Homo sapiens: one gene and its partners. Changing the gene in region 1 together with any one later gene gives a genetic interaction. Each region holds a gene or a part of one and is shown in the gene's direction. Other genes may lie near its edges.

Evidence for each region.
Region 2: changes in PTPRJ (region 1) and RELA together harm fitness more than expected from each alone (negative genetic interaction), as found in Homo sapiens cells (one large-scale study listed by BioGRID).
Region 3: changes in PTPRJ (region 1) and GRK2 together harm fitness more than expected from each alone (negative genetic interaction), as found in Homo sapiens cells (one large-scale study listed by BioGRID).

What each region holds. Positions count from the first base shown.
Region 1 is NC_000011.10:48,123,529-48,127,174, forward strand, and holds part of PTPRJ (receptor-type tyrosine-protein phosphatase eta isoform 1 precursor), read left to right. Parts: intron 1-84; coding exon 85-342; intron 343-1,439; coding exon 1,440-1,658; intron 1,659-3,646. UniProt on the Homo sapiens protein: Tyrosine phosphatase which dephosphorylates or contributes to the dephosphorylation of CTNND1, FLT3, PDGFRB, MET, KDR, LYN, SRC, MAPK1, MAPK3, EGFR, TJP1, OCLN, PIK3R1 and PIK3R2. Plays a role in cell adhesion, migration, proliferation and differentiation.
Region 2 is NC_000011.10:65,656,461-65,660,014, reverse strand, and holds part of RELA (transcription factor p65), read left to right. Parts: intron 1-217; coding exon 218-349; intron 350-1,192; coding exon 1,193-1,297; intron 1,298-1,515; coding exon 1,516-1,728; intron 1,729-3,554. UniProt on the Homo sapiens protein: NF-kappa-B is a pleiotropic transcription factor present in almost all cell types and is the endpoint of a series of signal transduction events that are initiated by a vast array of stimuli related to many biological processes such as inflammation, immunity, differentiation, cell growth, tumorigenesis and apoptosis.
Region 3 is NC_000011.10:67,279,933-67,283,578, forward strand, and holds part of GRK2 (beta-adrenergic receptor kinase 1), read left to right. Parts: intron 1-799; coding exon 800-851; intron 852-1,160; coding exon 1,161-1,252; intron 1,253-1,526; coding exon 1,527-1,626; intron 1,627-1,717; coding exon 1,718-1,796; intron 1,797-1,889; coding exon 1,890-2,020; intron 2,021-2,338; coding exon 2,339-2,433; intron 2,434-2,502; coding exon 2,503-2,610; intron 2,611-2,819; coding exon 2,820-2,886; intron 2,887-3,195; coding exon 3,196-3,296; intron 3,297-3,646. UniProt on the Homo sapiens protein: Specifically phosphorylates the agonist-occupied form of the beta-adrenergic and closely related receptors, probably inducing a desensitization of them. Key regulator of LPAR1 signaling.

The sequences.
Region 1 (3,646 bases):
TCCCAGCACTGAACCCCAGTCATTCTTAATGAAGGTGACTGCATATATCTTGTTCCATTAATGCATGTTGTATTTTTAAAATAGAGCCGATCCCAGTTTCTGATCTCCGTGTTGCCCTCACGGGTGTGAGGAAGGCTGCTCTCTCCTGGAGCAATGGCAATGGCACTGCCTCCTGCCGGGTTCTTCTTGAAAGCATTGGAAGCCATGAGGAGTTGACTCAAGACTCAAGACTTCAGGTCAATATCTCGGGCCTGAAGCCAGGGGTTCAATACAACATCAACCCGTATCTTCTACAATCAAATAAGACAAAGGGAGACCCCTTGGGCACAGAAGGTGGCTTGGGTGAGTTACAAAGGGTACCTTCCGTCTCCCTTACTGGTTCTTACTTTCAGTAACTAAATGTTCTAAAAAATAAATTGCTCTTCCATGTGTATGGAGATTTAGAATTTATAAAGGGCTTTTCCTCCACATTTTAGTTTGATCCCCCACCTGCATGAGGAAGGAAGGAAACGTGTTCTGATTTTACAGGGGAACACATTGGGGCTGAGAACAGCAATAGGAATTGAAACTTTTTAGAGTCTGGCACCCAGGAAAGTTAGAGGCCCCTTTAGCTTTCTATCTAACAGCTGTGTCAACCCAAGTTGGGCCTTCAGAGGAACTTATCACGTCTGCTGGTTGATGTTGGCGTTGTCATTTGCAGGTTTCATAGCATTTGCAGAGGATCCCCAGGATAACTCCATGAGGAGGACAGGCACTTAATCTGCATTTTATACTTAAGAAAACAGAGCTACAGAGTGGGTGTCAGGATCCTTGCTTGCGAGTGACAGAAACCAGACTTTGGATAGCTCAGACAGAAGGAACAATTTATTGGCTCATGTGGATTTTCCTGCTAGCGGGAGGCCTTAGAGAAAGAGATGAGGCAATTCTCATCCCTCCCTCTTGCTTCTTTCTGTTCATCAGCTTCATTCTCAGAGCAGCTCCCTCTGCACACTTAAGGAGCCCAGCTGCTCCTGTTTCACACCCTGCAGCTGCCCCACCAGCCAGCTGCCCCACCAACCAGGGTCTGGTCCAGGGAAACGTGTCTTGAGTGGGGTCTGATTAGCAAAGTCTGCTTCACAGAGCTGTCCCTGGAAATCCATGCTGGGACAGGAGAAGATAACAACCCAAAGAAGGGAGAATGACCTGAAATAAGCAGAGTTTGAAAGAGAAGCACCAGATATCTGTGGTGCTACTGGAATAACAGTACAAATGGAGATGGAGCTATCAGGCCTTTTTATGGGGCTGCCTCTCTCTCTGGAGGAGGAAGGGAGCAGATATTGATGGAGCACCAACTGTGGCCACTGTCTGATGGCCATCTGATGGGGTTGGGGCTCCGAAGGAAAATGGGGGATGTGTCCCTCTTGTGGTTGATGTCTTTTTGTCTCCTGTGCTTGAAACAGATGCCAGCAATACAGAGAGAAGCCGGGCAGGGAGCCCCACCGCCCCTGTGCATGATGAGTCCCTCGTGGGACCTGTGGACCCATCCTCCGGCCAGCAGTCCCGAGACACGGAAGTCCTGCTTGTCGGGTTAGAGCCTGGCACCCGATACAATGCCACCGTTTATTCCCAAGCAGCGAATGGCACAGAAGGACAGCCCCAGGCCATAGAGTTCAGGACAAGTAGGTTGAACTTTGTAAAATGGTGGCAGCCAGAGTTTCCTAGCACAATGTTCTGTCTCCTGTGATTCTGATTCTGAGTGATTTCTTGCATAACAGCTAGTTTTGATGTCAGAGGGAGCTTCCTGGAGGAGATTTTGGACAGAGCAGATCTGCTCAGTTTCTTCTTAACTCCATGGGCAGTGCACATCTCTCATTAAGTGAAATCAAATACATGGAGCAGCCCCTGTGTGCGGGCACCAGGCACTGCCTCACGCCATCTTTCACAGCTTTGCGTGGTGGCTGATGAGACAAACTGGCATCATACTTTCCTCTTAAAAACAAATAATCATTGCTTGTTTTTCCTTTGCTTTGAGTTAAGAAAGTTATGAAAGTGAGTTTCATTTTTTCACCCGCCTTGTAATTCATACCGATCTTTCTGTTGAAATGCTTGTTGACATGCACATTGCTGCTTCCTCGCTATAATTTATCAGCACTTTCACTCTGTAAGTTCACCAATATTTGGAGGCTTTGGTGAAAAGAGCGGGAGGTGAACACATTTGGGAATACTTAGAGGTAGTTACTGGCCAGGCTGTGTTACTTGTACAGGGCTAGAAGTTTTGGCAAGACATTGGTGAGAAGCCATTCTGTAAGGAATGACAGTTTTTCCTGGTATCCATGTTGAAGGAGGGTCCATTTGTGTCCTTCCTTCCCTTTGTACTTGTTTTGCTAATGTGGGAGTGGGTGGGGAGGATGCGGCCGTAGGACAGGCTGCCTGACCTCATGGGGCCTGCAGTGACCTGGCAGGAGTGGCAGGTGGGAGGCTCTCGGGTGAGGAGGGCTTGGATTCCAGAGGGTGGGTTAGTTGGAGGAGGAGGAAGGGGCTCCTATGTGGGTGCGGTTGGCAGTGGTGGGGTGTCCTGCACATGGTAAGCTTGCGTGAGAGAGTGAAAGGGGCTGAAATCTGGTCTGTGTGCCCTGCGTCAAGCCATGCACCCAGGGCTGGGTCCAGCCAGGGGAAGGTCCCTTTGACTGATTTGCTAAAAGGACTTGTAGATTTGTGTGGGCCTGGGGTCCCTGCTTTTTAAAGCAGTTTGAGCAAAAGCAAAGTAGTAGTGATTACATCTCAGGCTCTTGGTGGTGTGAATTCACACACATCCTGCTTTGGGTTGAACTGTCTTCATGCTTGGTAAATAATCATTATAGTAGCCTTTCCCTCTCTATAAGGGGCGAGTGTGTGTGTATAGATAAGTCTTAGTCAGTTTGGGCTGCTGTAACAAATGGCCATGCACTAGATGGCGTAAACAATGAACATTTATTTCTCAGGGTTCTGGAGGCTGGAAGTCTGAGACTGGGGTGCAGCATGCCTGGGCTCCGGGTGAAACACCCTCTTCCTCTTCCAGGTTGCAGACTCCCTGGGTCTTCACGTGGTTGAAGGGGTGAGGGCGTGGTTTCTCTCCAGCCTTTTTGATAAGGGCACTAATACCATTCAGGAGGGAGGTAATTCATGATCTAATTACCTCCCAAAAGCCCCGCCTCCTAAAAGCATCACATCAGGGGTTACAATTTCAACATAGGAATTTTATGGGGACAGAAACATTCAGTCTGTTGCAACACACACACACACACACACACACACACACACACACACACACACAGATAAACACACATTTCCACCCACCCCAGAGCACCCTGCACTTTTCAAGTGACTAGTTAGGTGGGGCAGGGTTAAGGAAACCATCAGAGGACATTGTTGAGGCACCCAAGACACGACAGAAAGCCACCTCTAGGGCTGAAGGGCTAGAGGAGGACAGGGTGTTTCTGGAGCCCAGTGAGAGCTGGGGCAGTGGTGGACACAGCTGTGTCAGGACAGGAGGCCCAGAGCAGGAGGTGATGGAGGAAGGCACTGACTCCTTTCTCCTGTGGCCCTTCAGGGGCCTGCCCATTGGCTCATAGTGGAACCCGGTCACAGCCCATGTGGCAAGACCCCCCATGATGCCTTGCACAAGGTC
Region 2 (3,554 bases), about 18 Mb from region 1:
CCATTCAGTACTCTCCCACTTTACCACTGGGAAACTGAGTCCCAGGAGGGGACATGACATTCAGGCCACAGTGGAGTCAGTGCTGGGTTCTGCCTCCTCTAGGACTTGTGTTTCACACACGCACCAGCGGCCCTCCCAGCGCAGAGCTCCCTGCCCCCACTGATAGCACCTATATCCCCACTTCCCCTGCTCTCCTGATCGCCTGTTTTCTTGGCAGTTCCTATAGAAGAGCAGCGTGGGGACTACGACCTGAATGCTGTGCGGCTCTGCTTCCAGGTGACAGTGCGGGACCCATCAGGCAGGCCCCTCCGCCTGCCGCCTGTCCTTTCTCATCCCATCTTTGACAATCGTGAGTAGCGAGGGAGACGCAGGAAGGGGAGAGGGTGGGCCTGAATAGGAGGAAGGGGGTTGGGGTGAGTGTGGCCTGCAAGAGGCGCTCTGGCTTCATTCAATCATCTTGCGTATTTGTCTACTCTTCTCTGCCCAGCTCTTTGTTGGCTGGGGAGAGAGGGCAAAGAAGACCCAGAGCTGTCCTTGAGGTGTAGCTCTGGCCTGGCAGGAAGTCTAGCAGAGAGTCTGATGGGAGATGGGCATTTTCAGTATTGTGTGATGAGAAGGTGGTGTGCCCACAACTGCGATAATGACTCTAGGAAATGAACTCCCAGGAACAAGATAGTGTTCGAGAATGATGATTCAGTGATGGAAGCCCACAGATGAATTGGGCTGACTGATCAGCTGCAGTCTTTAGTTAAGTAACCAGCAGGATGAATGGAAATAAAACGAATCTGGAGCCCCAAGGATGGGAAACCAGGATAAACTGGGGGTCAGGAGGGAAGGGCTCATTGCCAAGGTGGGTATGGACTGGCCTTAAAGATTGCTTTGGTCAGGTGGAGAAAGAGTGTGATCAGATTGGCACCCACTGGACTATAAGCTCCGGGAGAGCAGAGAGGTTTGGGTTTTGTGTGTGGTCGTATTCTTGCTTAGATCAGTGTTGAGTGCACAGTAGGCAAATACTTGTTGAATCGGTTGGGGTGAGGAGCTAATAAGAAGGTCTGACTTTGGCTACAAAGGTGTAGGTGGCAAGCTCTGGGCAACCTTGACTCTGGGCTGGGCAGGGAAGTTGCATCTCCTGCAGGCCACCCTGGGGACCTCTCGTGGCTCAGGTCATCCTCCCTTGTTTTCACTGCCTCAGGTGCCCCCAACACTGCCGAGCTCAAGATCTGCCGAGTGAACCGAAACTCTGGCAGCTGCCTCGGTGGGGATGAGATCTTCCTACTGTGTGACAAGGTGCAGAAAGGTATACATCAGGAGGCAGGGGTGGGCTCTTGGGAGCAAGGGGTGAAGCTGAGCAGAGAAGTGGAGTGTCAGGTAACTGGCTTTGGATACTTCCTCCTGTGCCTCGGGGGCCTCAGGTGGGCCGAAGGGTGATGTATCAGAAGACAAGCATCAGAAGTTGAGGGGGAGACCATGGAGGGTTAGACACACTGACCCACACTGCCACCGCATCTCCTGCAGAGGACATTGAGGTGTATTTCACGGGACCAGGCTGGGAGGCCCGAGGCTCCTTTTCGCAAGCTGATGTGCACCGACAAGTGGCCATTGTGTTCCGGACCCCTCCCTACGCAGACCCCAGCCTGCAGGCTCCTGTGCGTGTCTCCATGCAGCTGCGGCGGCCTTCCGACCGGGAGCTCAGTGAGCCCATGGAATTCCAGTACCTGCCAGATACAGGTACACAGCTGGGGTGGCAGCATCAGGGCAGCTGGGCTCTGTGCCGTGAGAGAGAGGCCAAGACTGCATGTCTGGGGCTGTGGTTGAGGGCCAGAAGCTGGAGTCAGAGCTTGGGATCCAAGAAACTGGAATCCATTTCTTGCCTCATTTAATAATAATGATACCTCAGACATTGAGCTAGTACTACACATCTGCCCCTATTCCAGGCACTTCACTGGATTACCTGATTTTAATCTCATGACCCTTTTGAAGTAGGAGATAGTGTCCAACTTGCCTGGGTTCACGTGGCTAGTAAGTAGCAGAGTCTAGCAGAGTCAGCGTTGGAACCCAGGCCATCTGGCTTCAGGATCCTTTTGCCACACTGGTTGTCTTGTCACTACCATACAGCCCAGCCACATTTTGGTCGAGGTTTGAGTGTCCACTTGGTACCAGGGCCTGTGCCAGGTATTGTGAATACAAAAAATGAGTAAGACATGCTCCCTGCCCTTCAGAGTCTCAGTCACTTGAGGAAGACAAATGTGCAAAACAGATCCTTAAGTCACGGAATGACATGTGAAATGGAGGTGTGCGCAGAGAAGCACGGGGGCACAGTGGCCTCCGGGGAGCTGGAGACAGCTGCATGGAGAAGGTGGCATTGAAGCTGGAGAAAGACACAGAAGTGTGTTCTCCAGGCAGGTGGCCCAGCACCTGGAAGGGAAGGGGTGTTGGCAACTGCACGGCCTATTCAGGGCCACCTTCGTGGTTTGAGCTGATGTTGGGCAGTGAGCAGGCTCAGAGATTGGAGGGCCTGGTTAAGCTGAAGGCCTCTAAGCAGAGAGGTGACAGGAGCAGATTTGGAAGTTGACTCAGGAGGCCACGTGTAGAAGATCAGAGACAGACAGACTCAAAGCAGGGAGGCCATTCTGGAAATGTTGCTGTAGTCCAGGAAGAGAAGATGCGGCACAAACCTTACAGAAGGAATAGCAGAGCAAGATCACATCTCCACCACTGTCCTCAGTTACCCTTCAGCCCTGCAGCCGTTTTGCGTCTTACAGACCAAGCTCAGTCTCACCTCAGGACCTGTGTCTAGCTGTTGCCTCTGCTTGGAATGCCCAAGGTTTTAATGCAAGTGGCTCATGCCAGTCCTTCCCTGACCTCTAAATTAGCCCTTCCCTCTACATTTAGACTGTCCTGACCTCACTTCCAGTATTGTTACATCACCATATCGTCCCTGGACCACCGTCACTTGAGATTTTCTGGTTTGGTTTTGTTTGTTTGTTTGAGACAGAGTCTCACTCTTGTCGCCCAGGCTGGAGTGCAGTGGTGCAATCTCGGCTCACTGCAACCTCCACCTCCCGGGTTCAAGTGATTCTCCCTGCCTCAGCCTCCCGAGTAGCTGGGACTACAGGCGCCCGCCACCACATCCGGCTAATTTTTTGTATTTTTAGTAGAGACGGGGTTTTCACCATGTTGGCCAGGGTGGTCTCGATCTCTTGACCTCGTGATCCACCCGCCTCGACCTCCCAAAGTGCTGGGATTACAGGCGTGAGCCACCACGCCTGGCCGAGATTTTCTGGTTTGTATATATGATTGTGTCCCTCTCACTTTTTCACTAGGATGCCAACTTTTTGGGAGCAGACACCTTGTGTGCATACTCACGGCCACATCCCCAGTGTCTAGAAGGGAGGCTGGCACATAGTAGGTGCTTGATAAATATATGTCAAGTTACTGGCGGGGAGTGAGAGAAAAGAAGATAATCATTCCAAGGTTTCTAGCTTTGGTGACAGGGCAGATGGCGGATGGTCAGGGAATGCAGGAGAAAGAACCTAGTTTTTGAGGGATGATGA
Region 3 (3,646 bases), about 19 Mb from region 1:
GAGGGAGGGGCCGCTCTCAGAAGGGGTATGGCTGGCGTGGAGGGCAGAAGCCAGCCTTCATTAGGCCCTGAGCAGGCAGGTGGCTGGCCCGTCAGCGGCCCCCTTGCAAGGACTCCTGAGAAGTCAGACAGGCTGCAGGTCATCTCCCACCCTGCCCTCCTCAGCACCAGGCAGCTCAAAGCCCATCCCAGGCAGTCTCCTAGCTCCAGGGAGCTAGGAGAGCTGTGCCACCTGTGCCTCTTTCTCTCCCGTGGGCTGTATAGCACCTTGCTGGCCCACCTGGACTGAGAAGCATCAGAGTCCTGGTAGGGGTAGGCCCAGTAGAGCGCATGGCCCCCGTGACCCTCACAGCCAGAGTTGGCGCGGTGGGTGGGAATTGTAGGTAGATTTCAGCCAGCTTTAGGGAGCAGCTGTTTTAGGGTCACTGCTGCCCAGCCATGGAGTGAGCTCTGTGTCACTGGGGGTATGCAAGCAGGGACAGGAGACGTACTTGTCAAGGATATGGTAGCAGGAAGTCTGGGTTAGACTGGAAGACCTCCTTTCTGTGCGGATCTGATTCCAGCAGGAAGCCACGGCCAGGTGGCCGAGGGCCATGCTGGGCACCCAAGCAGCCCTGACTGGTGCTGTGGGCGGGCAGGCCCTCAACATATCCTTCCTGGAAGAGGACATTAACGCTCGTGATGTTTCCACACCTACCCTCACGGGACCCCAGGGAGTGGCGGCTGGGTGGGGAGGCTCACGACAGCATCATCCTTCCCACATTCTGAGTGGCCCCTGAGCCCTGATTCTTCTTTTCCAGCGATAAGTTCACACGGTTTTGCCAGTGGAAGAATGTGGAGCTCAACATCCACGTGAGTGGGCTTGGGTGGGGCATGGAAAGCCACGCACCCTGCTGCTCCTCTCCCGGGAGCTGGGCCTGTGGCTTGGCTGGGAGGGGGAGGTCAGGGGATGTCTGTCCTTTAGCCCCCAGGGCCGTGGCTATGGGGGTCAGGGCCGGGATCCCAGCATGGGGAGGCCGGAGCAGGTAAATATGTGGCAAGGATGGCCAGGACATGGGTATGGGGACCCTGGCATGGGGCCAGCCCCTGCTGCCCAGGTGCCTCTGCCCCAGGGCTGGGCAGAGGCAGCCTGTGGTGACCGCAGCTGTCGCTGCCCCTCAGCTGACCATGAATGACTTCAGCGTGCATCGCATCATTGGGCGCGGGGGCTTTGGCGAGGTCTATGGGTGCCGGAAGGCTGACACAGGCAAGATGTGAGCACCCTGCTCGGCGCGGTGGGATACCTCGGGGAGCCGGGCTCCTGGGGGACCCTGACAGGCCGGGTTCCACACAGGGCCACCTGCTGCTCCATGCACTCCTGTCTTGCCGTGCTGTTACCCCCGCAGGCTCCTCTGGCCCCAGCCCTCCCTGTCTCTGATTTGTGTCACACGCTGGTCCTGGGTCTAGTCTTTCCCTCAAGCGCCCCCTGAGGCAGCCCTGGGCCCCTGCTCTGAGGGTGGGTGTTGACTGCCGACCTCTGCCCCGTAGGTACGCCATGAAGTGCCTGGACAAAAAGCGCATCAAGATGAAGCAGGGGGAGACCCTGGCCCTGAACGAGCGCATCATGCTCTCGCTCGTCAGCACTGGGGTGAGCTGGGTGGGCCGGGCTGCCGCTGAGGCTCTGGAACCCCGGGCGCCCCTGCTAACTGCCCGCCCCCTCCCCTCCTCTCCCCTCCTAGGACTGCCCATTCATTGTCTGCATGTCATACGCGTTCCACACGCCAGACAAGCTCAGCTTCATCCTGGACCTCATGAACGGTGAGTGCTGGCCGGGCCCTAGGGTGGGCCGGGCCCAGGCACGGGAGGCTGGGGCAAGACACTGAGTGCTGCCTGTGGGACTGCCTCCCTCAGGTGGGGACCTGCACTACCACCTCTCCCAGCACGGGGTCTTCTCAGAGGCTGACATGCGCTTCTATGCGGCCGAGATCATCCTGGGCCTGGAGCACATGCACAACCGCTTCGTGGTCTACCGGGACCTGAAGGTGAGCGCCCCTGCTGTCCCCAGGCTGGACCTCCGTGGCTGTCCTCTCCTTCCTCTCGACATCCCGGCCACCAGGCCCAGAGGAGTGGGGCTCCTGGGACATGGCCGCCCCGTATCTTCCCATCTCCGCCCCTGCCCTTCCCACCGAGCCACTCTCTGGGTCCAGGTTGTAGCTGGGGACAGGAGAGAGGACCCCCACCTTTGCCCTTTCTTTGGGTACCCATCGTCCTCTCCAGTGAAGCAGTGACCCAGCTGGCATCTTGCCTGGCTGGGCCCCATCCTGAGCTGCCCCAGGCAGCTCACTGGGCTTCCTTCACAGCCAGCCAACATCCTTCTGGACGAGCATGGCCACGTGCGGATCTCGGACCTGGGCCTGGCCTGTGACTTCTCCAAGAAGAAGCCCCATGCCAGCGTGTGAGTGCCCCCCACCCTCTCCCTCCCCACCCCTTGCCACTCCCGCTTATGGCCCCCTTGCTCCCACAGGGGCACCCACGGGTACATGGCTCCGGAGGTCCTGCAGAAGGGCGTGGCCTACGACAGCAGTGCCGACTGGTTCTCTCTGGGGTGCATGCTCTTCAAGTTGCTGCGGGGGTGAGTGGCCCATCCCAGGTGGGCAGGTGGGTTGGGGCTAAGAGAAGTTCCTCCCCAATCCAGGTGGGATGCCAAAGGAGGGGAGCCCATAGCTGCCTTGGTGGTAGGGTTGGCACCGTCCCTGACTTTGGCCACAGCTCATCCATGCTGCCTGCCTCCCTTTCCCCATTCCTGTCCTTTGACATTGGTTTTTGGCCTTTCTTGCCCAGGCACAGCCCCTTCCGGCAGCACAAGACCAAAGACAAGCATGAGATCGACCGCATGACGCTGACGATGGTGGGTGCAGGTCTCAGTGCAGGGCCGCAGGGGGCTGGGGGGAGCTCCTGTGGGTGCCAGGCCATGACTCTTGCTTCCCACCAGCCAGCAGAGATCTGGGCCACTGACCCCTACTCTGGCCTCTGAGACAGACCTCCTGCCCCATAGGCTCTCGCCCTCCCCGTGCTGTTGGAGCATGACTGCTGGGCGAGCTAGGATGCTGTGCCCCATCTGTCCCTCTGCGGGGGCCTGGACCCCTCTCTCCCCTGAGCTGGGATGGGGTCAAGGGCTCTTCCTAAGCCCCTGCTAATGTCCCACTCCTCTCTAAAGGCCGTGGAGCTGCCCGACTCCTTCTCCCCTGAACTACGCTCCCTGCTGGAGGGGTTGCTGCAGAGGGATGTCAACCGGAGATTGGGCTGCCTGGGCCGAGGGTGAGTACCCTGGCGCCTTGGGCATGCTGCTGGCTGTGCCCCCATGAGGACAAGGGCTGTGTCCCGTCACCTGGAACCCCCTCCAAGGTCCCAGCCTCCTTGGAGGAGCTCATAAGTTGGGGCATGGCCAGCCCTGTCCAATGTTCTCAGAGTGGAGGGGCTGCCCTGGGAGTTGGAGCTGCTGGAACCAGCTAGTAACTGGCTTCCAGAGGGGCCCTTGTCACAGATGATGATGATAGCAGCTTTTTATGTTTATCAAACATTTATTAAGCACTGGGCATAGGGTTGCAAAATTTACCAGTGTTAAAACCCACAACCCTACGATGTAGGAACTTCTGTTCTCCCATTTG